Linked DNA regions of Homo sapiens: region 2 is linked to region 1. Evidence: fine-mapped expression QTL. A gene starts in region 1. The other region holds a variant in brackets. All regions are shown on one strand. Distances are from middle to middle.

The links. PIP is the estimated chance that this variant, and not a neighbour inherited with it, causes the effect.
Region 2: its variant is fine-mapped to the expression of MYO3B in tibial artery (GTEx, PIP above 0.99).

The regions. Positions count from the first base shown.
Region 1 is chr2:170,171,108-170,183,116 of GRCh38, forward strand. It overlaps MYO3B (myosin IIIB), which reads left to right and starts at 7,040. Exons shown (of 35, transcript NM_138995.5): 1 at 7,040-7,182. The coding sequence starts at 7,181. RefSeq lists an enhancer at 9,222-9,451.
Region 2 is chr2:170,372,058-170,384,066 of GRCh38, forward strand. MYO3B (myosin IIIB) reads left to right here. Exons shown (of 35, transcript NM_138995.5): 10 at 9,959-10,055; 11 at 11,016-11,132; 12 at 11,653-11,757. Among named protein-coding and RNA genes, the nearest start is that of MYO3B-AS1, 27 kb to the left of the region's middle. The variant C/G (reference allele first, on the strand shown) is at 5,668.

The DNA of each region.
Region 1 (12,009 bases):
AGAGAAAGGTCTTGGTTGTCTTTTACCTAGGAGAACCAGTGATTGAAAACCATTCGTTCATTATAAGAAATATTCTTAATATAGTCAATAGTTTTTATATATTTTGATCATTCTCTAGTCTAGGTTACATCTTTCCCCAAAAGTTATTCATAAGCCTTAAAAATATTTAAATCCTTTTGTCTAGCAAGTCTATACCCAGGACTTTAACTTAAAACCATTACGTATGTATATATGAATGCTAAGATGTTGATTGCAGTAGCTCATAAATAAGGAAAAATTGGAAACAACAAAATGCTTATGGGGCATCAGTTAACTAATTTGGTGTGCCCGTGTAAGGGAAAGAGGAATGGTCAGTAATACCTCTTGCAGACTAGCAGTTCTCATATGTCTGTACAAGCCCCAGCCCACCAAGAAATCTTAATGTGAGGGTGGGTGGAGGAGGATTGTAGCTTCGGAAGCAAGGTATAATTTTTAAAATGCCTCCTTGGTGATTCTGATATCCTGAGAGTGGAGATATCTCCTTTTAAGAATCAAGATTATAGTTAAATGATGTTAAAACCTACTAAAAAATGATGTAATATTTTTAAAAATACCAAATATCAAACAATAGGTAGTCAACACTGGTTAAAAAAAAATGCACACCCACCCATAGACACTCTTGCACCTACCCACATGCATTTTTTTTTTAAGTCTGAAGGAAAGACAACAAAATGTTGAAAGTGATTAGTTTTTGGGTAGGATTAGGGGTGATTTTATTTGATTTGTATCCTGTATTTTCCAACATCTCACCTACAAACATGTACTACTTTATAATCACAGAAAAAGACACAACACATTCTTGAATTTAAAAAGAATGTAAAAATTAAAATAGTAGCCAATATTTTCTGAAGAGTGTTAATTTTGACAGAAAAAAAAATTCCTGAATTGTTTATTATACTTGTATGGTCTCTAAGTTATCCATAGTTTGCCAAGCCTGTTGGCTTACGGTAGAACCAAACCCAGACATTACTTCCCCCTCATGGCAGCTACCCAAATTTCAGGACTAGTGTCTAAGAATGTGAAAACAAACATCTGAGTTCTCTTCCAAATCAACTTTACACTCTGACTGAATTTTTTTTTTTTTTTTTTTGAGACAGGGTCTCCCTGTCATCCAGGCTGGAGTGCAGTGGTGAGATCATAGCTCACTACAGCCTTCTGGGTTCAAGAGATTCTCCCGCTTTAGCCTCCTGAGTATCTGGGACTACAAGCATATGCCACCACATGAGCTAATTTTTAAATTTGTAGAGATTGGCAGGGTAGTTCTCCCTATGTTGCTTAGGCTGGTCTTGAACTCCTGACATTAAGCAATCCTCCTCTCTTGGCCTCCCAAGGTACTGGGATTACAGGCATAAGCCACCATGCCTGGCTTTTGGATTGAATTTCTGGAGAGTCAAATAGTTGTCTAAACATAGCCAGGGCCTTCTGGAACAGTCTCTGGTGACACATGCGTAAATGCTATGGGCAGGTGTGTATGTTACCACCTATGTGGAGAGCTGGTTTCTCCTATATTTTTCTCAGCACTTGGACAAGAATTTTCTAGAGGACTGGACTTTTCCATTTGTGGGTAGAAGTAAACGCTGGAGGGTAACGAGCTATAGTAGAAGATGACCAGAACAGGAGTCTGATAATGGGGTTCTAGACCTGGCAAAATGAAGGCAGGAGCGCCAGACCTTCTTGCATTCCAGGATTTCTTTAAGAATTGGATGAGATAACACTTGCAAAAGTGTCATGAAAGCTATAAAATGTTAACCCTGCAAAGAGTGTTATTACTTTTTAATAATAAGCCAGCCTGGATTTTTCATAATCTGAGAGTTAAGAACCCTACTGATTGGACAATACTACTGTGGCCAATTCTTGTGAAGAGGAGCAGCCTCTTTTGCTTTGTGGAGTCATTTTTTTTCTCAGTCATAATCATAGATGGCAGGACCAGGATTTGTGTCCACCTATCACTGGCCTTACCCTGCATGATCCTCCTTGCTCCCTAACCTCTGGCCATGCCTCAGATCTCTTGGTTCCAGGAATATTTGCTTGCCGCGGTGCTATCTCCACTTTGGGCCTTCACACGGTGCTTCCCTCTGCCGAAAACATTCCCCCGTCCCCTGTCCCTTCAGCTCACTTCCTCAGCTGGCTTTCTGAAGCAGTGTTTCTCAAAGGGTGGTCCAGCATCACCTGGGAACTTGTTAGAGATGCATATTCTGTGGCTCTTCTCCACCACCAGGGTCAGAAACTCTGGATGTGGAGTCCAGCAGTCTGTTTTACCAAGCCCTCCAGAAGATTCTGATGAATACAAAAGTTCGAGAACCACCCCCCTAGAGCAATGATTCACAAACTTTTTTGCCTCTTTGGGAAGCTTAAAAACTGCTGGTGCTCAGAGCCATACTCCAGAATTTCCAGGGAGAGGTGGGACCAGGAATCCATATTTGTAAATCTCTTCAGGTGATTCCAATGTGCAACCAAGTTGGAGAATCACCTCAGAGGCCTGATTTCCTTTGTCATGGGCTCCTATAGCACCTTGCACTTCCCTTCTGTAACACTCATGCTCTGAGCCCCATAGGGATAAGGAGGCTACTTTATGTCACCAGGACCTGCCACACCATAGGCACCATGGAATGTTTTTGTTTGTTTTTTGTAGAAACAGTATCTCACTCTGTTGTCCAGGCTGGAGTGCAGTGGCAAGATCATAGCTCACTGCATGCTCGAACTCCTGGACTCAAGCCATCCTTCCACTTCAGCCTCCCAAGTCGCTGGGACTACAGTTGCACACCATCATGCCTGGATAATTTTTTTAATCTTTTAGTTTTGTAGAGATGGGTTCTCACTATATTGCCCAGGCTGGTCTTGAACTCCTGGGCTCAAGCAATCCTCCCACCTTGGCCTCCCAAAGCCACTGGATGTTGACAGAATGAATCACACTGTGCTTTGATTACAGGGTATGTTGGAAGGATTGATTTGAAAATACTAATACCAAAAAGATTTCCACATGACATTTTCCAAAATATGATTAGGAAAGTAGTATGGAAGATCATAGTAGTTTCACCGTATTCAGGATGAAGGAAGATTGAGCTTTATGGAGAGAGAAGTATGGAAGTGCAGGAACAATCCCCAGGGATCTCTGTGTGTACCGTGTGTGTGTGTGTGTGTGTGTGTGTGTGTGTGATAAAGCAGATCACACACAGGTGATCTCTGTGTGTGCCCAGTGTGTGTGTGTGATAAAGCAGGCGAACTCCAGATCCACAAATTTTTAAAATCTGAAACTGGACACATTGTTTGCCCTGTTTTTCAGGGCAGACTTAATACCCAGAGATTCTCCTTTTACCATTAGGATTTATTTGTTTTTTAAGTATTAGCTGATGACTTTGGTTAAGTTCTTATTTGACTTAGAATGTCATTTGGAATTGAGGGATAAAACCCATGAAATGAAAATGTGGATATTAAAATGGAGCAGAAAATGGATTATTTGGTGCTGCTAAAAATTCATCTGTTTAGAGTAAAACTTTTTTTTTTTTTTTTTTTTTGAGACGGAGTCCTGCTCTGTCACCCAGGTTGGAGTGCAGTGGGCACCATCTCAGCTCACTGCAACCTCTACCTTCTGTGTTCAAGCGATTCTCCTGCCTCTGCCTCCTGAGTAGCTGGGCTTACAGGCGCCCGCCACCACGCCCAGCTAATTTTTGTATTTTTAGTAGAGATGGGGTTTCACCATATTGGTCAGGCTGGTCTCCAACTCCTGACCTTAGGCGATTCACTCACCTGGGCCTCCCAAAGTGCTGGGATTACAGGCATGAGCCACCGCGTCTGGCCTGTTTAGAGTATAACTTAGTAGGATGTTCTTTGGAAAAATTATCCAGAAGACACTCAAAAGTTAGGTATTTTCTTTTTTTCCTTCTTTGCAATTTGTCAGCCATCAAGTGTAGTGTCTGGCACTCCATAAATGGATGAAGAAAACTAAGAGGTTTACTTGTGGTAATTCATTTTACAGTGTTATTAAATGCTTTGCTAGTTTGAAATGTTTCTGCTATAATAAATAATTTAAGACTTAAAGTCCTTTCTTTTCAATGTAGTTCCTTCTTAAGGTGTTTTTACTTGAAGGGTGTGCGTGTTTGCCCGTGCACACATGTGGGCATGTATGCTTATGAATGAAAATGATCATGAAATTATTGCTCTTTTAGTTCTTTGGAAAAATAAATCTTATGCATATATTTCTTAGGTATTTTAATTGCCTTTGTTATGTAAAGAAATCCCATTCATTCATCCATCCAGTAGGTCATTTCTTTCAACATTATATAGCCACATGCCAGGCCCTATGTTAGGCATGGGAGATATAATGGTGGACCTGATAGGCATGGTTCCTGTCCTCCTGTTGCTGTGTAGTGGTTTTAGCACTTGCGAAAGTCATCTATGAGATTCTTTTGCTTCCGGGTTCTTACATTTTTATTGTTGAGGTGGGGTCTCACTTTGTCCCCCAGGTGAGAGTGCAGTGGTGTGATCATAGCTCACTGCAGACTTGAACTCCAGGGCCCAAATGATCCTCCCACCTCAGCCTCCCAAGTAGCTGGGACTACAGGCATGTGCCAACATGCCCTGCTAATTTATTTATTTTTTGTAGAGACAGAGTTTTGCTATGGTGCCCAGGCTGGTCACTTCTGCGTTCCTGAGTCATTCCTGACTTGATGTGTGTGCGTATATTTTATTCTTGACATTAATTAGCATTTTTCTGCTACTCTTGGATGAACTTTCTAAACACGCTACCTTCCAACCTTATCAGTACATTCAAACCAAGTGGACATCCCAGAATAAGGTGGTGATTCTATAGCAACACAAATTAAATGTCCATTCCCCAAAATGTCTCATTGGAGAGAACAAATAATACACCACATAATTAATAGATTTAAAATCTTCATGGTACTTTAGCTTCATTAAAGATAGCAGCTCAAGCAAATTTAAAATTAATAGATTCTATCTAGTTCGCCTATTGTTATTTTTGAAGTCTGTTACAGAAGAGAAATTATGCAAATGGCTGTCAGGCTATTGCTGCTGCACTCACACTAGGAATGCATTATAATTTCTTTCTTAGAGGAAACACTTATTTGGAGCAGACCAGGCCCTCGGTTCGTTCGCAAGAGGTTGTCCCTTCCTTCAGATGGTCCATTTTGAGCTAATAAGTACTATCAGGGTTGAGGTGGAGAGGCGGGGCTGTGGGGAAGGAAATTAGGATAAATTACTGGGGCCCAGTGGCTGAAAGGGCCTCGGGCAAATCCCTGGTGAAGACAGTCTAGCCAGTCCTCCTCTGCTGGGGCATCTGGTATTTTTTTTCCCTTGGGCCTGGGCAGGCTGTCGGTCACCTTCCAGACTGTATAGCCTTTAACTCCTTGTTGCAATGGAATCCTGCTGGCCTTCTGATTTGCCTTTTCCTGCAAAAATCTGCCAAGACACTCTTTCTCAAAGAAAATTTCCTATGTTACTCTACTGTTTAAAAGCCTGGTGTGGCACCCTCTCACCTTTGAGGAAAAATTCCAGCCCCCCAGGCTGCCTGAAAGCTCTGCCTTCAACTGACTCTTGTATACAAATTCAACTTCATCTCTTGATTATTTTTATAATTCTTCTACTGGAACCAGGCTGATCTTTTTAACAACCTGTTAATTTTAATAACCTGTTCATTTATTTATTAATTTATTCTGCAAGCAGATGGGATGATAAGTTCAGTCCAACTGTAGGAATCCATGATTCTACTAGCTATAATATGAGCAATTATTATGTGCAAATACTGTAGGAAATATAGGAAGATAGAACACATTATCCCCATTCTTAAGATTCTTATGACAGTAAATGGAAACACAAAGGCCATTATTGACTAGCGGGAGTAAGATCGCTGTCCTTTAAATCACCTTCTTCATATTTGCATTCTCTGTGTGCTGTTTCTTGGCTCTGGGTTTCTCTCCTGCCTCATCTACACTAATCCTTTTCACTTCTTCATTCAAAACTGTACCTAGATTTATCTGCTCCAGGAAGCATTCCCACTCAAGTCTTGGTCCTGGGTTGAACTGACTCCTCCTCAGAATTGATGGATATAGCTTATCCAGTGTTATTGCACAGTCTTCAACTATTTCACATGGGCCTATGTGTCATGTTAGCTGGCCAGAAAAGAAGCTTTCTGGGGACCCTACCCTCCTGTTTCTCACTTCCCCTCTCTCCCTTTTTTTTTTTTTTTTTTTTTTTTGAGATGGAGTCTTACTTTGTTGCCCAGCCTGGAGTGCAGTGGCAGAATCTCTACTCACTGCAACCTCCGTTTCCCAGGTTCAAACAATTCTCCTGCCTCAGCATCCCTGGTAGCTGGGATTACAGGCGCACACCACCATACCCTGCTAATTTTTGTATTTTTAGTAGAGATGGGGTTTCCCCATGTTGGCCAGGCTGGTCTCGAACTCCTGACCTCAGGTGATCCACGAGCCTTGGCCTCCCAAAGTACTGGGATTACAGGCGTGATCCACCATGCCCAGCACCACCCCCCCACCCCCTGCCTCCTCTTAACCTACTGTTCTGTATATAGCCCAGGGCATGCTACTGAATGAATAGTCACTGTTGAATAGTCACTGTTTCATTGCTTGGTAATTCAGATCAGAAACTCATGGTGTTTCCCCTGGGTTTATCTGCAGTTCAGAAAAGTGACCCTGACTACATGCTTTGATTATGCCCTTTGCTCACAAAAAGATGATTAGTTTTGATTGTGCAGCATTTGGAATGAAGGAATTTAATCTGGAATGAAGGAACTTTAAAAGGTTGGGGGAATATCACATTGGAACTGTTAAATGACATGCAAACAGGATCTGTGAGAATGGTTTTGATTCTGCTCTGTGTCCTGGTAGGAGACACTAAATAGATCAGGCTCACTACCAATTAGCATCATCTTAATCTTGCCTAATAGTGAAGCAAAGTCACCAAGGATTTGGTGGATTTATCAGCTCCTCCCACAATAGTCATCTGAGGCTAACACCTCTTGGAACCTAGATCGAAAGTCCTTTGGTAATGATGTGTCATACATTCTAGTCATCAAAGACACCATTTTCTGGGCCTGAAGTGTTCTGCTGGTTTTTGGAGGAATGAGAATCCAATCTCTCATAAGCCGGATTCAGAAAATAGGTCATCGATGTGAGTTGCAGTTATTTTCCTTCCAGCTTTCTTCTGTGCTTGCTTTAGATTGTTTTTCTGCAAAGGGCAGATGCAGCTGCCCTGGCTGGTGGGCAGTGGAGGGGGATGACAGCCACTCTGGCTTTGGGCCTCTGTCTGACATCACCCAGATTCCTGGGTCCTCTCAGTTAGCATTTGCCTTTTGTCTGGGTGGTTAAATTTCTCTTGAAGGAGTAGGATAAACACCCTCTTGAGTATTGCTTTTTACACAGACACACACCACACACACACACACACACACACACACATACACACAGCATAGTTCATAGTCACTTGATTTGCCACCTGCAGTTTATAATAGAATGGACCTGTGGGATTATAAACCACTTTATTTCTGCACAGAATTTCTCAGCTTGAGGCCAAATTGAAGGGCATTAGTCATCAGTAATTTGCAGATGTTTTTAATGTTTTTCACCCAAGAGAGGTTTCAGGCAGCTAAAGCTAAGATAAATTTCCTCATGCTTTGGTGGGGAAATGAAAAATCTGATCATTTAGTTAATCATTTGTAAGAGCTGTGGGTATGTATTGTTCCTTAGTGACTGCAATATCATGACAGATTTGTTAATTTGGTAACATGACAATGTAAACAATAGTAGATAAATTCCATTATGCCATGATTCTTTTCTTCCTCTCAGTAATTTTGTATATTCAAGGTTTAAAATCCATAGAACATTAGAGATGGAACTTAGAGATCAACCTAGAGATCATTGGATTCCTCTACCAAGCTCTGTCAAATGCCAGTCCTGAGTGTCTCCCCTGGAGCATCAGGATAAATAGCTAATGCATGGGGGGCTTAATAGGTGCAGCCAACCCACCATAGCACATGTTTATCTGTGTAACAAACCTGCACGTCCTGCACATGTAACCTGGAACTTAAAATAAAATAAAATTTAAAGAAAGGAAAAGAGTACATAATCAGTGGAACCATAAAGGTCAGTTCTAGTGGGAAAATTAGGAAAGGCCTCCTAGAAGAGAAGACATTTGAGCTATACTTGAACAGGCCCTATCTAGCAGCATCCAGATAGGTGGTTTGTGAAGAAGCCAGTTCCTACTCTTACGTCTTTACCATGGTTATGGTTTGAATGTCCCCTCCAAAGATCATGTTGAAATTTAATTGCCATTGTGAGAAGAAATGGGACCTTTAAGAGGTGACTAGGTCATGAGGGCTCTGCCCTTATGAATGGATTAATGCTGTTATTGTGGGAGACGGCTCCTAGTAAAAGGATAGGTTCAGTCTCCTTTTTCTCTCTCTTGAGCTCTCACTCTCTTGCCCTGTCTCACTATGTGAGACCTTCCACCATGTTATGATGCAGCAAGAAGGCCCTCACCAGATGTGGCCCCTTGATCTTGGACTTCCCAGCCTCCAGAACCATGAGCCAAATAAACTTCTATTGTTTATAAATGATGCAGTCTGTGGTATTCTGTTACAGCAGCAGAAAATGGACTAACACAACTATTATGCACTTGCTTATGTATTGGTTTGGAATTATTCTCTAATTTACTCACGCTTGTATGGTATGTGTTTCCTTATTCTGTGTATCTCTGGGTGTTATATTTAATATTTGTACAGATTTCCTCTGACATTTCACAGTTCAGGTTTCCGATTTCTTCTTTCTAAAATCTATTCTCTAGATTTGAAAGCATTCTATGATTTGTGATTCATATATACCATACTATAACATCTAGAAAAAATATTCTGAATAGCATACTGAGCAATGGAAATCTTCATCATGAATTTTCTAATGAGTATAAAATGTTGCTGGGCAAGTTTCTATTTAAATCATGCTCGCTAGGCTTGACTAACTGCAGACATTCACAGGGTGCATGCTGCAGAGTGCTTTACTTTCAACAAGGTAAGGCTGTACCTCCGTTAGGGACTAATTCAGGGTATTCAACAAGGGATCAGACTAGACCAATTTGGGGTTGTTAAGGAACTAAAACTAGCTCACGAGAAACTCAAATCAGCTCATGAAAAGAGGGGCTGCTTGGAAGAATGCAGTAGGAAATTTCATGGGTTACAAGGACAGACAGCAAAGCTTAGCAGGCCTCAGAGGGCCAAGATGTAGAATTCACAGTGAACCCACTCACTAATCCTCTTTGTCTCACTCTCTCAAGCATGGTCCTTTCAGTTTCTTATTTCTCTGTTTTCTTTTTCTTCTCAGGATGAGCCTCTGTTTCATATGGTTTCTGCTATCCTCTGACTTCAGCACACATTTGGGTCATAATAGTCTCCTCTGTAGAGATCTCTTATATGTTTTTTTAAAAAATATTTATTTTAAAAAGTAGAATAACATATGCACTAGCAAAAAACATGACTAAAAATGTGTAATAATTTTAAAAAGCATATAAATTTCTCTCTTTTCCAAACTCTCTGATTTTTACCACCTCTCCCTAAAGTTTAAGAGTTTCCTGTGTAGCCTTCTGGAAAAATGTATATAAGGATATACACATACATAGAGACATACACACAAATATACACATAAAATGACTAGAAATGCAAATATTCTTTGTATTTACACAAAAATTGTCCTCTCTATACACTATTCAACACTTTTAAAACAAATCTTAATTGTATATTTGGCATTCTTTCCATATTAATTGGCAGAAAATTTACCTTTTTTCTTTTTGGTGGTTACCTGTGGCTACATTGTATTTAATTTTATGTAACTATTATGATTTATTAGATAATCTCTCCATGATGATGGGCCTCTAGGTTGTATCTGGTTTTCTACTGAAAATAATACTATAGTGAACAATCTTGTATGTCTATCTACTTCAAGTTTAATAGAGTTTTAGCTCTTACATCTGTTTAATGATTAAAGTTAATTTTTATATGTGGTGTAAGGATAAAGATTCTTTTTTTCTTTTTGCATATTGCTCTACAATTGTTTTAGCACTGTTGAAAAGTTTTCCTTTCTAGTATGTAGAAATATAATTGAATTTAAAATATTGACCTTGTTTGTATCCTGTAATTCTGATAAACTCACTAATTAGTTCTAGTAATGTTTTTATAAATTCCATCAGTTTTTTAAATAGATAATCATGTAATCTTCAAATTAAGCCCATTTTACTTCTTCCCTTCTAATCTGGATTTTTAAATTTTCTTTTTCTTGACTTATTATTCTGGCTTCACCACAGTATTCAATATAAATGATGAGAGCAGACATCCTTGGCTTCTGATCTTAAGGTGAAAGCATTCGGTTTTTCACCATTAAGTGTGGTGTTAACTTCAGGTTTTTCCTAGATTCCTGTATCAGATGAAGAAGTTCCTTTCACTTTCTAGTCTGTTGAGAGATTTTTGTTGTTGTTTTTAAATTTTGAATAAATGTTGAATTTTTTGTGAATGCTTTTTCTGCATCGATCGAGATGATGGTTTTTCTTTTATGTTCTGTTAATATAAATCTAAGTGTGCTTTTTTTGATTATATATGTAAAGTAAATGCCTACCAGTAGAATTACAGAGACAAAGGGAATGGGCATTTGGTAGATTTTGACTAATAATTCCTCACAAAGATTGTTTACGCTTTCGCTCATGTTGTCTCAGAGTGCTTATTTCTCTTAACACTATTATCAAACTTCTAAAAATCTTGACAGTGTGATAGGAGACAAATGGTATCTCATTAGTTTGATTTGCCGTTTAAAATTTACTAGTGAGATTTAGCATCTTTTATACATTTAAATTTTTTGAGTCTTTTTCTTTTTTATTGTATATACTCTTGATAGAAAATTAGCTCCTGATACAAACCTTCTTTTCTATTTATTTTTTGGAAAAATGTTAGTACTTACAACAATTCTTTTGGTTGTAGAGACCTTTTTACTTGTATGCAATTATGTTTATCAATTTTTTTCTTAGGGCTTGTGAGTTTTCTATTCTACTTGAAAATATTTCTTGCCTACACCAAGACTATAATGTATTTAGCTATATTTTTTTAAAAAATTTTGAGCCACCATACTCTATTTTGGAGAAAGGAATGAGGTAGCAATCTGGCTTAACTTTTTTTCTGAACAGCCAGCAAGTTAAGCCAGCATAATTTATTGAACAGTATTATTTAGTCCATCTTTTGCCTATTGATTTGTAATGTGATTTTTATCATAAACCCTATTTCTTTGTGTATTTGAGTCTACTTTTGGTTTCTAGTCTAACGATCTGACTACTTATTTCTACCCCTGTGGCATAATGTTTTAATTACTCTAGCAGTATAACATGTTTTAGTGTCTGGTCAAATTATGTTCACTAATTATTCTTTTTTAAAATTTTCATGTTATGTGTTTTTCTTTTTCTGTTTCTTTTTTTTTTTTTTTGAGACTGAGTTTCACTCCATTGCCCAAGGTGGAGTGCAGTGGCGTGATCTCAGCTGTCTGCAACCTACGCCTCCCAGGTTTATGTTATTCTCCTGCCTCAGCCTCCTGAGTAGCTGGGATTACAGGCACCTGCACCACACCCGGCTAAGTTTTCTGTTTTTAGTAGAGACGAGGTTTCACCATGTTGGCCTGGCTGGTCAAACTCCTGACCTCAAGTGATCTGTCTGCCTTGGCCTCCCAAAGTGCTGGGATTACAGGTGTGAGCCACTGTGACCAGCCCTCATGTGTTTAATTTTCTAATGAAGTTTAATATCATTTTGTCAAATTCTTAAAAAAAAACAAAGCGGCTGGGCGCTGTGGCTCATGCCTGTAATCTAGGACTTTGGGAGGCCAAGGCGGGTGGATTGCCTGAGCTCAGGAGTTCAAGACCAGCCTGGGCAACACTGTGAAACCCCGTCTCTACTAAAATACAAAAAAATTAGCTGGG
Region 2 (12,009 bases), 200 kb after region 1:
GCAGCAAACTGTGATTGCACCACTGCATTCCAGCCTGGGCAACAGAGTGAGACCCTGTCTCAAAAAAAAAAAAAAAAAAAAAAAAAAACAACAACAACAAAGAAAAAAATCTATTGCTCTGCCAGGTTTGGATCTCAGGCCAGCCACTAACTGGATAAGTTTTTAATCTTTCTCTTCCAAAGTTTCTTCTATAAAACGGGGGTTATTTTGAGGGTTAAGTGAGTCAATACATGTAAAATGCTTAGAATAATGCAACCTCCATAAATGTTAGTAGTAGAAGTAGTGTACAAGGTCTATTTAATTCTGAGTCTTTCATTTCTTTTTAACACTAACTACCTCTTGCCCATAATCTGTGCAAATTCATCTTTTTACTTACTGTACAAGATCATGAAAATAAACACTACTGAGGTACTGAATGTTTAAAATATCCCATTTTATCTCTTATTCAATATCTAATTTATTCATTCAAGAGGCATTTATACATGTGTATGTGTCAGGCCCTATGCTGAACAGAGGGACTACAAAGGCAAATCAGATGCAGTTCCTGATAAAGAGCTAATAGTCTGGTGTGTGATAGAGACAAGAATCAGGTGAGAACAGTTCAAAATGAAAAGTACCTAGATAAAGGAATGCCTGGGATACCTCTCAGAGCACCTGGTAAAGACACCTAAGTCAGTCTGGGGTTGGGATGGTAGGGGAAGATGCCCTGGAGCTGCTGGGTAGATGATCCTTGAACTGCCCTGAAGAACAAATCAAAGATAGTCAAGGAAAGGGGGTTATTCGGGGTAGAGGGGAAAGAAAGAGCAATGAGCAAAGGGCAAGGCACAAGGGCTAGAGAGAGCTTGGGGAATCTGGTGAACAATTAGTTGACATGGCTGGAGCTTGGCATGGGGTAGGTGGGAGGGAGAGACAAGGTAGACAGGAGCCACGTCACCATGGGCCTAAGGAGCTTGAATTTGTTTCTTAGGTGCTAGGGAGCCATTGAAGAGTTCCAGAAAGTTGTTCTGATTGCAGTATGGAGAATGAAGCAGGGTAAGGCTGCAGCCAGGGAACTAGTGAGCAGATCATAGTAATTACAAATGGCAGAAGATATTAAAATAATGATATTGTCAGGACTTAGTGATGGATTGATTGAGGGAGATTAGGGAAACAGAGAAGTGTGTTGGGGCCTACCCAAACTGGGCTGCCTCCCTGGCCTGGTTCACAATGCAATCATGTAGAAATTGCAAGACACGTCTTCATAGTCTATCAAATGCAATGCCAAGTACTTCCAGATATTACACAAAGCTTCCAGCTTTCTGCCCAAAAGAGAGTTCTTCAATGGTCTAGGCAGTCCTGGGCCCTCCAGCTGTAGCAACTCTTTTTGGATTTGAGAGCTGATACAGAGTAATGAAACCTATAATCTACAGGGAAAACTTTCTTACCATTCCTGCAAAGGTAAGGAACGTTCAGTCCACTTTAGTACTTTTCCCAGGGGAGAGAGAAGTTGGTAGTTTGAGCAGGATGCAGGGAAGAATGCAAGTTCTTAAAGGATGGGGGAACACTTGGACAGGTAAAGGGGAAGGATATATATAGAGAGGGAGACAACGAAGACAGAAGAGAGAGGAAGCAATGGAGGAAGCAAGAGGGAGTGGGTCAGGGGCCTAAAAGGGAGGTTGACTTTAGAAAGAGAGAAACTCTAAGTTGGGAAAGACACAGAAAGGTTAGATAAAAGTACTCAGAAAACTTAGGAGAGGAGGCATTGTGAGGAAATTCATGTTGAATGGCCTTTAAAAAAAAAAAAAAAACTTAGCAAGGTTTCAGAGTTGGGAGTGGATTGTGGACTCCAGGGAATCGTTAAATCTTTGAGATATTCACTATGAGGAATATGATAAAGGGTCAGTTAAAGATCGACATCATGATTGCTTAATAGCATAGAAAACCCAGGTAGAATGCAACTGAATAGCATCCTATTGTAGTGAAGTTAATCAGTGTCTAAGATAATGCATGTAGAGCATTCAGGACACTTGGCACTAGAAACTCTCAGAAAATGCACCATCACCACTGCCGCCTTTCTCATCTGTCATCTCAATTAACTCTTAGCAGCAAGGAGTTAGGAGTAGAGAAAGCAGACATTATGGTCTTCTTCAGGCTAGAGACTGACTTCAGTGGACATGATGAGTGGGCAAGGAAGCAAGGGAATCGAGGTTAGTAGAAGAGTGGCCTTGGGATCTTTGTGGGTAGGGAAGAAAGTGACACCAGACTGGCTTATTGACTTTGAGGCTGATCTAGTCCTGGGACTGGCTATTACAACAAAGATGAAGAGCAGATTCAGTGAGGGGATGATGAGAAAAGGGATTGTAGAACTGAGATCCTAGGAACTTTTGATAGATAATTAGGAACTAAGGATAGCTGAGCTTGTGGGCAACTTCGGTGGAATAGAAAGAAATGTTTTTTAAGTGTTGACAGGTTGAGGAACTCTTAGATCAGATCCATCTCAGTTATGGCACATATTCAAGAGTATTCAAAAACAAGGCTAAGAATCATGGAGGGCTTGTTCACATAGAGCAGAAGCTGTACTGTGCTTGGAGGGCTTGAATTTGTAAGTCCCCTGTCTCACCTCTCCTGGGTCTAACCATTCAGGCTTTTCTGAGTGCTTTTTGGAAAGCCAGGATGTGATTCATCCCTATTTCACTCTCTCTATATATATATATGCATACATACACACACACACACACACACACACACACACACACACACACACTACAGATATAGATACAGGACAGCAGAGGCACCTGTGGAGAAGTGATATTGTACTATTTGAGATTTGATAGATACCATTACCTGATGCTGATTATAGTGTATGTATGACATCATTGGAATTTAAGTTTTTCCAGTAAATTATAATTGTGCCAATGCATGTATTTGATTCAGGTACAATAGAGCAGTTATTAATCCAAGTCTTACTCTTTTAAAGGAGTAAGCCCTAAAGGGCTAAAGAAGCCCTAAAACTATGTGAACAATGGGCTGAAAGTACATTGTTACTTCATCTGTTGGAGGTGTTTTTAAACTATTTGGTCATTTCCTTTATATCAGCACCTATTTCCTTGATCTGCAAAAAGACGACTTCTTCCCCAAACCAGTTTTGCAAATCCCTGAATTCATTAGTATCATCTGGTATGTCATCTCACTGTTAAAGTTCAGAGAAGTAGATTGAAAACATGCTTTGTATCATTTTACAAGGGTTATTGGGAGAAGAGTGAAACCACTCTCTGGAATGTGAGTGGAGGCAGGGAAAGGACTCGATTGTCTCTGCCACGACCATGAACTCAACCGTGAACCTCAGTAAAATTACAAGATCCAGCATGCCGTGCCCCTGCAGGTGGCTTGGTACTAGCTGAAACCACAGATGTTAAACCCTAAATGCCAAGGGTCTGTTCTAAGTATTACTTGGTAGAAGAATTAAGTTGCTGGGTTTTTTTTTTTTCTGCTCTGTTTAATGGGTTGTCATGTCGCCCTTGCAATTTGCCTGAGGCTGATTAAAACAATGACTTCAGCTTTTGATTTCTTTTCAACCTGCAGCAATGACCTTTAAAAACAGATTTCTCACTATTTAACTGCTAGTTTTCCCCAGTAATCCTTGCTCACTCTCTCCCTCTTCTACCTTCAAATATGTGCATGCATGCACACACACACACACACACACACAGAGCACCCCATATTATATACACTAATGGGTTATTGGGTTCTTATGTAAATAAGTAACTCCAGAAAGATTACTTCATAAAGTGCTGAAGAAGCTTAACACACAGGAGGTTAAATATCCTTTTATCTTCCTAACAGAAGAAATAAATCTATACCTTGCTATAATTAGTATCTGCTATCTATCTATACCTATATCTGTCTATCTACAAATGAGTAAGTTAGTTAATATTAATTTTATGCTGGTGTTACTGATTCTTGCCGCTTAGAGAAGTTGGGTATATCAAATACTGTTTAATATGATTAATGATAAGATGCTGATTTATTGGGATTCTGGCCAAAACGGTGCTTAGATGAAAAATGGGCAGATACTATAATAATTTCCACCCAAACAATTCTCCTATTTTAAAATTTATGCATTGTATTGTTTGAAAGACATAGCCTTAAGTTCAGGGTCAAGATACAGCTCATGTAGTTAAAGGTATCCAGCTGCTATCTCTGTCCATATTTGACTCTCAGTAGAATAATGTCATTCCTCAAAGGTCTGCTATTGTTTTTCTCGTTTGAGGTCCATTATTATATAGTTACGGTAAAATAAAAGTCCCTCTTTCATTGGCTCTGTTATCAAAGGGTATATTGAATGGAAATTAAGATTTAGAAGAAATATTCAACATCACTGACCTTGGTGTAGTAACAGTACTCTATTCTCAGTTTTGAGTAATGTTTTCTTTCTTGTATGGAATCCATTGAATGTAGTGATAAGGGAGTGATCCCTGAGTTCTCTCTATGGCCATGGAGGCTTTTGTCCTAGATTCTTGAGGACTGACATCTTTGAGCCTGCACCTTTTTCCTTATTCCCTCTCTCTATTTTTTTTTTTGCCTCTATCCGCAACAAATTTTACTTCCTTTTCCATCTGGAATCTGGTAACAGTGATAGTCATTCTCCACTTTTTGCAGTTCCACTCTTGGACGGAGGAGAGGGTTCTTATCCTGGGTGTGGAGGAGCAGAGGCAGAGGTGACCTTCACAATGGTGCTGACACAGGGTGACTCTCTAAGAAGCCAGCAGGCATTTCTCAGTGCAGAGATTAACTTCTTAGGAGTATATTGCTTGTTGTTATTATTATTAGGCTGAATTGATAAGCTAGAAGAATTTGTTTCCTTCTCATGTTTGAGTTATGATTTAGAGCACCTTTTTCTATTACTTGTTCTTCATCATAGTTGGGGAGTGAAAGGAAGAGCGTATCCTGTCTCACCTACGTGAAGTTCTTGCAGCTCTGTTTGTACCTACCTACATGGAAGCCTCCACTTCCATAGGCATAACTGGCAGACAGAAAGAGGCTAATTGATTAATGAGTCACTTTTGGGCAAAATATGTTTGTCAATATAGTTCATAGGACTAGCAGCTCAAACAAAGAAGCTAGCAGGCCCAGTGATGAGATATTAGAGAACAATGACACAGAAATGGTTTTAACCATAATGCAGATACAGAGATTAAACTAGAGTGAAAGCTGCAACACTTTAGGAGTTTATTTCATGAGAATAATTCTTCTAGTGTTTAAACCAGTTTGGTGTCCTCTAAAGCTCCTTTCCCACTCATTGGCTGGGCCAAAGATTTGAACAAAGACCCCCATCCTCTACCTCATCTATGCCCACTGTTGTCTTAGGGGAACTCCCAGCCTCTACCTCTGGCTCTGTCTTTCCCGTTCTTCAGATTCTATTCTTACGCTGCACTCATTTCCTTGGACTTGATGGTACAGACTTGCCCTCATTCCCACCCTACTTGATCCATGGATTCAGGCACCAGTTTCCCCTTTACCTGATCCCTGAAACCTAAGGCCCGTCCTGCTCTCCACAGTCTCCCGCTCCACTGCCACACCAAAAGCAAACTCCAGGAACCAGTCCAAGCCAAGACTTTCCCTCTAAGCTCCAACTCGCAAACTCTGTTTGTCTGAGAAGCCAGCCTTGGCAGCCAACATACTTACAAA[C/G]TCATAAAAACAAGTAGGAAATCTAAGAAAAGCAATATAAACTTTACTGGAATTTGAAAACGTCTTCTGAGCCATTAAAACTACAGTGCCTTACCACATACTTTTGATTTAGTAGAATGTTTTTTGCTGTTTATCCATTCATTTATCTATGTCTCCATTCCTCTGAGCTTTGGAATACTCGATCCAAGTAGCTTTTAGTTGGAGATCTGTAATTTTCACATTAAACGAGGAATTCTTCAGCAAAAATTGATAATAGGTCCTATTCTCAAGTAGGGCACTAGATGGAGCATGTGAATTTAAAGGAAATTAAGATCTATAGTTACTAATGACACAAATCACTTAACTCAATAAAATTAAAAAAATAAACCAAGTTTATTTTTATTAATTTCAACTAAAAATAGAGAAATATAAAACAACGTAACGCTTTTTATAAGCTTATGCAAAGTCTAGGAAAATGTTTTTAAAGGAGATAAAAATTGAAATAAATAATGCTTTTTCTCTACGATAGACCCTCCAAACCCCATAGCCAGAGGAGGAAAGTTAAGCGGGCAGCAGTTTCCAAAGAACACTAGTTGTGGAAGGCAGAAATAGTGCTACACATATATATATTTTTTCTGGTTGAGAAAACGAAGTGGTCTTTATCAGAGTAGAGAAGTCTTGCATCTACATCCACTTCTAGATTGCCTACTTCACTTTTAGGAGCAAATATTTCTAAAGAATTTGATCACCTGTAAGCATGGAAAGAGGCCACACATTGCTACTAATAGCAGTTAAAATTTTTAAAAAGTTATTTTTTGTTAATACAATATTATTGGGGAAGATTTTTTACAAGAATCAAGCTCAGATTTGCAGACAACATCTGCATGATTCTTGGAAGTTATATCTGTGAGACAGATTGGCATAGCACACAATCTCCTTCAGGCTCAGAAGATACCAATGTTGATCCTAGTGATATTGCATTGTGTATATTCACACTGAAAATTAAAACTTTCTACTAGACTGCATCTATTTGTGAGATTGCAAGTAAGGTTTGGTCCATGCTTCCATTTTTAGTTGGCTATAAAAATGTCATCCAATGTGAAGCTTGGCATTTCTGTATGCAGCTCAGGCTGCCATTAAATCCAGGTCAGGAGTTACTGAAGGAAAAAAAAGCCTGGAAAACTCACCATTGGTTCAGTGGTATTTTGAGTTCTGACTTCCTTCCCCAGTCTGCCTGTTACAATTTACTTCTCAGAGTCTTAAGATAGCTGCTCCATGCATTCTGACAAGGGTATTTAGTTGTCTTCAGTGAGGAGTGGAGAGGGCTTACTCCATCTTGACCAGAACCAGATCTGAGGTAATTTTTTAATTATTGATTTTCTTTGTCAAATGATGTGCAGAATATGCAATTATAAGATATAAATGTAGGAAGGAGACAAACTAGCTGAATTTAATATGGTAATTTAATTATTTCATGAAAATGTGGTACAATTTTTTTTTTTTTTTTTTTGAGACGGAATCTTGCTCTGTTGCCAGGTTGGCATGCAGTGGCTTGATCTCGGCTCACTGCAACCTCTGCCTCCCGGGTTCAAGCAATTCTCCTGCCTCAGCCTCCTGAGTAGCTGGGGCTACAGGCGTGCACCACCACGCCTAGCTAATTTTTGTATTTTTGGTAGAGACGGGATTTCACCATGTTGGCCAGGATGGTCTTAATCTCTTGACCTTGTGATCCACCCGCCTTGGCCGCCCAAAGTGCTGGGATTACAGGCGTGAACCACTGTACCCAGCCAGTATTTTGTTTTTTGATTAACTTCAAGCAAAATTATTCTTAGGTTTTATGTGAAGGGGATTTTGATCGGAAATATGTATCCTCCTGCTGTTTTATTTAACAAAATGGCTAGCTAGAGGCAGGCAGCAGCTCTGAGTTTTAGTAAAAATCTGTATTACAAACCAATTTGATTTTTCTTTGCCATCACCAATATGTAAAGTCACAGATAAATAATTCTGTTTAATAATTTTAAACTGCTTAGGTTATAAATTTGATTTGATTAAATAAAAATTAAGCTTCATTCTACTTTGGACCTTTATATGAATTAGCAGCAAAACTGGTTCTAGGACTGGAGATGACTAATAGCATGCTTCAAATATCTCTTTTCAAATTTATCAGTGATGGAGATTGAAAGGTAAGATTTAACTTAATAGGCTAGAAAGAGAGAAATCCATTTTATTTGGCCATTAATATTGCATTATAAACTCAAGACTCAATATGCAGAGCTGATAAGTTTGCTTCTTCCTTTTTACCTACTTTTGTGAAATGCATACCAAAGGGTGGGGTGTACATCAAGATTCCATGACTTCTAGCTGGTACTTACCATAAAACTTTCAGTCAACACCAGCTTCTAGGATCTAGCTAGATAGAATTGTATTGGTGGGTGATATCCTCATAAGCTGTGATGTTGATGGGCACAAAAGTGACAGAGAAGAATCAAGAAGTTATGCTTCTGGGCTAGTGAATTTACAGTATGTAGGACAGTTTATGTATGATTTTGTTTAGTCAATGATATTCAGAGTAATGTGTGTAGTTATGCAAATTGTTGATTCCAAATGTTAACAAGGATGTAAGAATAATAATTAGTACATGTTTTCAACTTTATTGCATTTTTATATCCATGACTATATGTGCTTTCACAGCTACCTGGGAGATAGACAGATCAGTTATGAGTAATTCTATTTATAGATGAAGAAAACCGATATACTGGCTGTTAAGGGATTTGCTGAGTGTCTCATACCACATTGCTCGCAACTCTGAAACTAGGGTCCAGAGCTCTTCTAGCCAATGCTTTCCTCCTAAACCGCATTGAGGAGTGATGAGTTTATGAAAGGAATTACGGGAAGGCCTACTTTGACCTTGAATTAATTTTAAACCTTAAAGAGCTATATTTTAGTATACCAGAGGGGATTATTACTGATTATCAAACAAGATTTTTAAATCCTTAGTGAACAGTGCCCTCCAGGAGAAAAACTCACATATATACACAAAAAGATGTGTATAAAGTTTTAAGTGTTGCATTATTACTAGTAGCAAAAAAATTGGAATCAGCCTAAATGTTGATCAACATAGGACTGAGTAGGCCGGGTGCAGTGGCATATGCCTGTAATCCCAGCACTTTGAGAGGCCAAGGTGGCAGGATCACTTGAAGCCAGAAGTTTGAGATTAGCCTGGACAACAAAGCAAAACTCCATCTCTACAAAAAATAATTTTAAAAAATTAGCCAGGCACAATAGTGCATACTTCTAGTACCAGCTAGTTGAGAGGCTGAGTGGGGAGGGTTGCTTGAGCCCAAGAGTTTGAGGCTGCAGTGAGCTATGACTATGCCACTGCATTTCAGCCTGGTGACAGAGCAAGACCCCATCTCTAAAAATTACTAAATAAATAAATAAAATTTTAAAAACAACAACCCCCCCCATCGGACTGAGTAAATAAATAGGTACATATTCATAAAGTATAATACTACCCAGTGATTAAAGTGACTGAACTAGGTAGGTAGGTAAGTGGGTAAGGTAGATAGGTAGATAGATAGATAAATAGAGTTTAAAAATCATAATGTTTAATGAAAAAAGTAAGCTTACAGTATAAAACCTAAGTATGATATCATTTTTATAACTAAACATACAGAACCTGTATATTGCTCATGGGTATCTATAGGCATATGACCAATATTTAAAAATAGACTGGAAGGAAACCCATCAAATAGTGGTCACCTCAGGAGAGAGGAGTGGGATGGGACAAGGGTCACAAAGGGATTTCACATGAATAAGAAAAAACATAAACAGTGATCAATTATTTGGTATTTACTATATTAATCTCTGAAAGTGTTACGTAGGTTAAAAACTATCACAAAAGTTGGGGGTGGTGCTGGTAGATAAAGCAAGGGGACCTCAAGGGAAGTAAGGCACTTATGGCTATACCCCAGTGAGAACTATGTGCCTGACACTGAGCAGAAGTCAGAGGTGTTTATTCTGGAAGTGCTGTCTTTGGCATTTAAGAAAAGCAAGTATGTGTATTAGGTGGGCCCATTTGGTAACACTCCTCACTCTGGCAGGAAGTAGACTTGAACTATGGAGATCACTTTATCCCAATAGTTCTACAGTGGCAGGAAAAGCCTGGGGACCTGGACTGGACTTCCTGTCCCTGTCTCTGAAGTCTCTGAACATATCACGTGATAAGATTGTGAATGAGCCATGCTTGCTGCCCGCTTTCTGCTACATTATTTGCTGTCTTAATGCTTAAACTCTCTTGATAAATTTCTAGGCATGAGAGGATGCATACCAGAAGACCTTATCATGTGGAAGATGCTGAAAAATACTGCCTTGAGGATGATTTGGTCAACCTAGAGGTTCTGGATGAGGTACTAAATATTTAGTAGACAATTCTCATTGAAGACATTTGTTTCATGTGAATGGTCTGAACTTTCTGTTGTAGACCATGTCCTCCTAAGGTCATTTGAAAATTTAATTGTTTGTGTAGCTATGGGATGAAGTTCAGGGAGCATTCAGTTGCTGTGACTATGATCCTGTGCTGTGTTTATTTAGATAGCCCCTAGAATGATGAAGAGAAAAGGATTTGGATTTTTGCAATAAAGCTCTTTATATTGTAGCCTTAATGATGGATTATATCAGCTGAAAATATTTTGTTTGATAAAATTTGATAAAATATTTCAATTAACCCTTAAGAAGTTGTTTGTTCTTCATAAGAAAGAGCTTCATTTAGGGAAATAGTGAAGTTAATATAGCTTGAATTCTAAATTTGAAGTCTGTGATAATCCCCATTTAAAATATGCATGTTTAATAGAGCTGTTAATTGCACTGGACCTGTTTATGCTGAGTCTAACTCTGGGGATTGTTACCTTCAATGTCTAAATCACTAAAGTGTAATACAAAGTGGTTAATTCTGTATTTATGCCACCTAGGTTTTAAGTGCAGTGCTTTGAGAAATTAACTTACCATTCTGTCGGTGCTCTATCAGTAGGAACAGCCTATTAAATAAAATTTTAAATACAACATTTTGACTGGTTGAGATGAGTTTTTTTTTCACAATAACAAGTAAAATCTTTGTTGGATATCTCAGTGTCTTTTAGCAAGTCCTAAGTGGGCCTAATTCTTTCAGTGTATTCCTATTTTTTCTTTCAAGGCAAATATTGGCATTGTTTTAATGAATTGGGATCATTAGGGTCATTGTATGATTTAAATGGACTACTTTCATCGTTTAGAGAAAGATGTTCTTGGAAGAATAAATTTGTTGTCATTTTTAGAATCTATCCCTTGACTGGGAATAATATTTACCTCAATACCATTTATCCTCTTCTTAGGATACAATTATCCATCAGTTGCAGAAACGTTATGCAGACTTGCTAATTTACACATATGTTGGAGACATCTTAATTGCCTTAAACCCCTTCCAGAATCTAAGCATATACTCTCCACAGGTAAGGGATGTTTTAAGAGCATACTGCTCCTTAATAGGAAATTAAAACTCACAAGGGCAAATGAAGAGAAAGAAAAAGTAAGAATAAAATTATGCTACCCTAGATGTATATACTCCAAACTGCAGATAGTAATGTAATACAAATGGAATTTTTACATCTTGAGAATACCTTTTTAAAGCAAACTATAGCAATAATAGTTAACATTTATTGCGTGCTTACTGCGTGTTAGACACTGGGTTATCTCACTTTTTCACACCCTGTGGGACAGGTACTGTTGTTAAACCTAGTTGGCAGACAGGGAGACTTAGCATAGAGTGAACTCCCTCTTACTAGCTCATGAAGCCAGTAAGTATAGAAGTGAAATTTGAACTCAGTCCTGCAGGCTCCAGAACCTATACCCTACAGTCTTCCTAATGCAACAAGTACCCTAATAAGTGACAGATTCTTGGTTTCATGGGCAATAGGTAGTGGAGTATTAGATGGTCCAGGGGAGAGTTTCCTTTAATTATTTTTCCTTCAGTTTTCCAGACTTTATCATGGGGTGAAACGCGCCTCCAATCCCCCCCACATATTTGCATCAGCAGATGCTGCTTACCAGTGCATGGTTACTCTCAGCAAAGACCAGGTAAGAACTCACCTTCCTTTCCTACGGAGTCACCCAGTTAAGACATGTTGTGTCTTCCTCGTCAACTCCTAAGTCTTCCTGAAACCTTTCCATTCCGGTTGCTGGTGCTGACCCAAAGAGACAGGAGATGAAGTGGCAGCTCTGTGGAACTTGAGCATAGGTAAAGCCATAGCATCGGGAGAATGTGAAAATGCTTTTCAAGAAACATAAAACAGTCACATGAGGTGCGCTCATTTTCTCTGATAAGATATA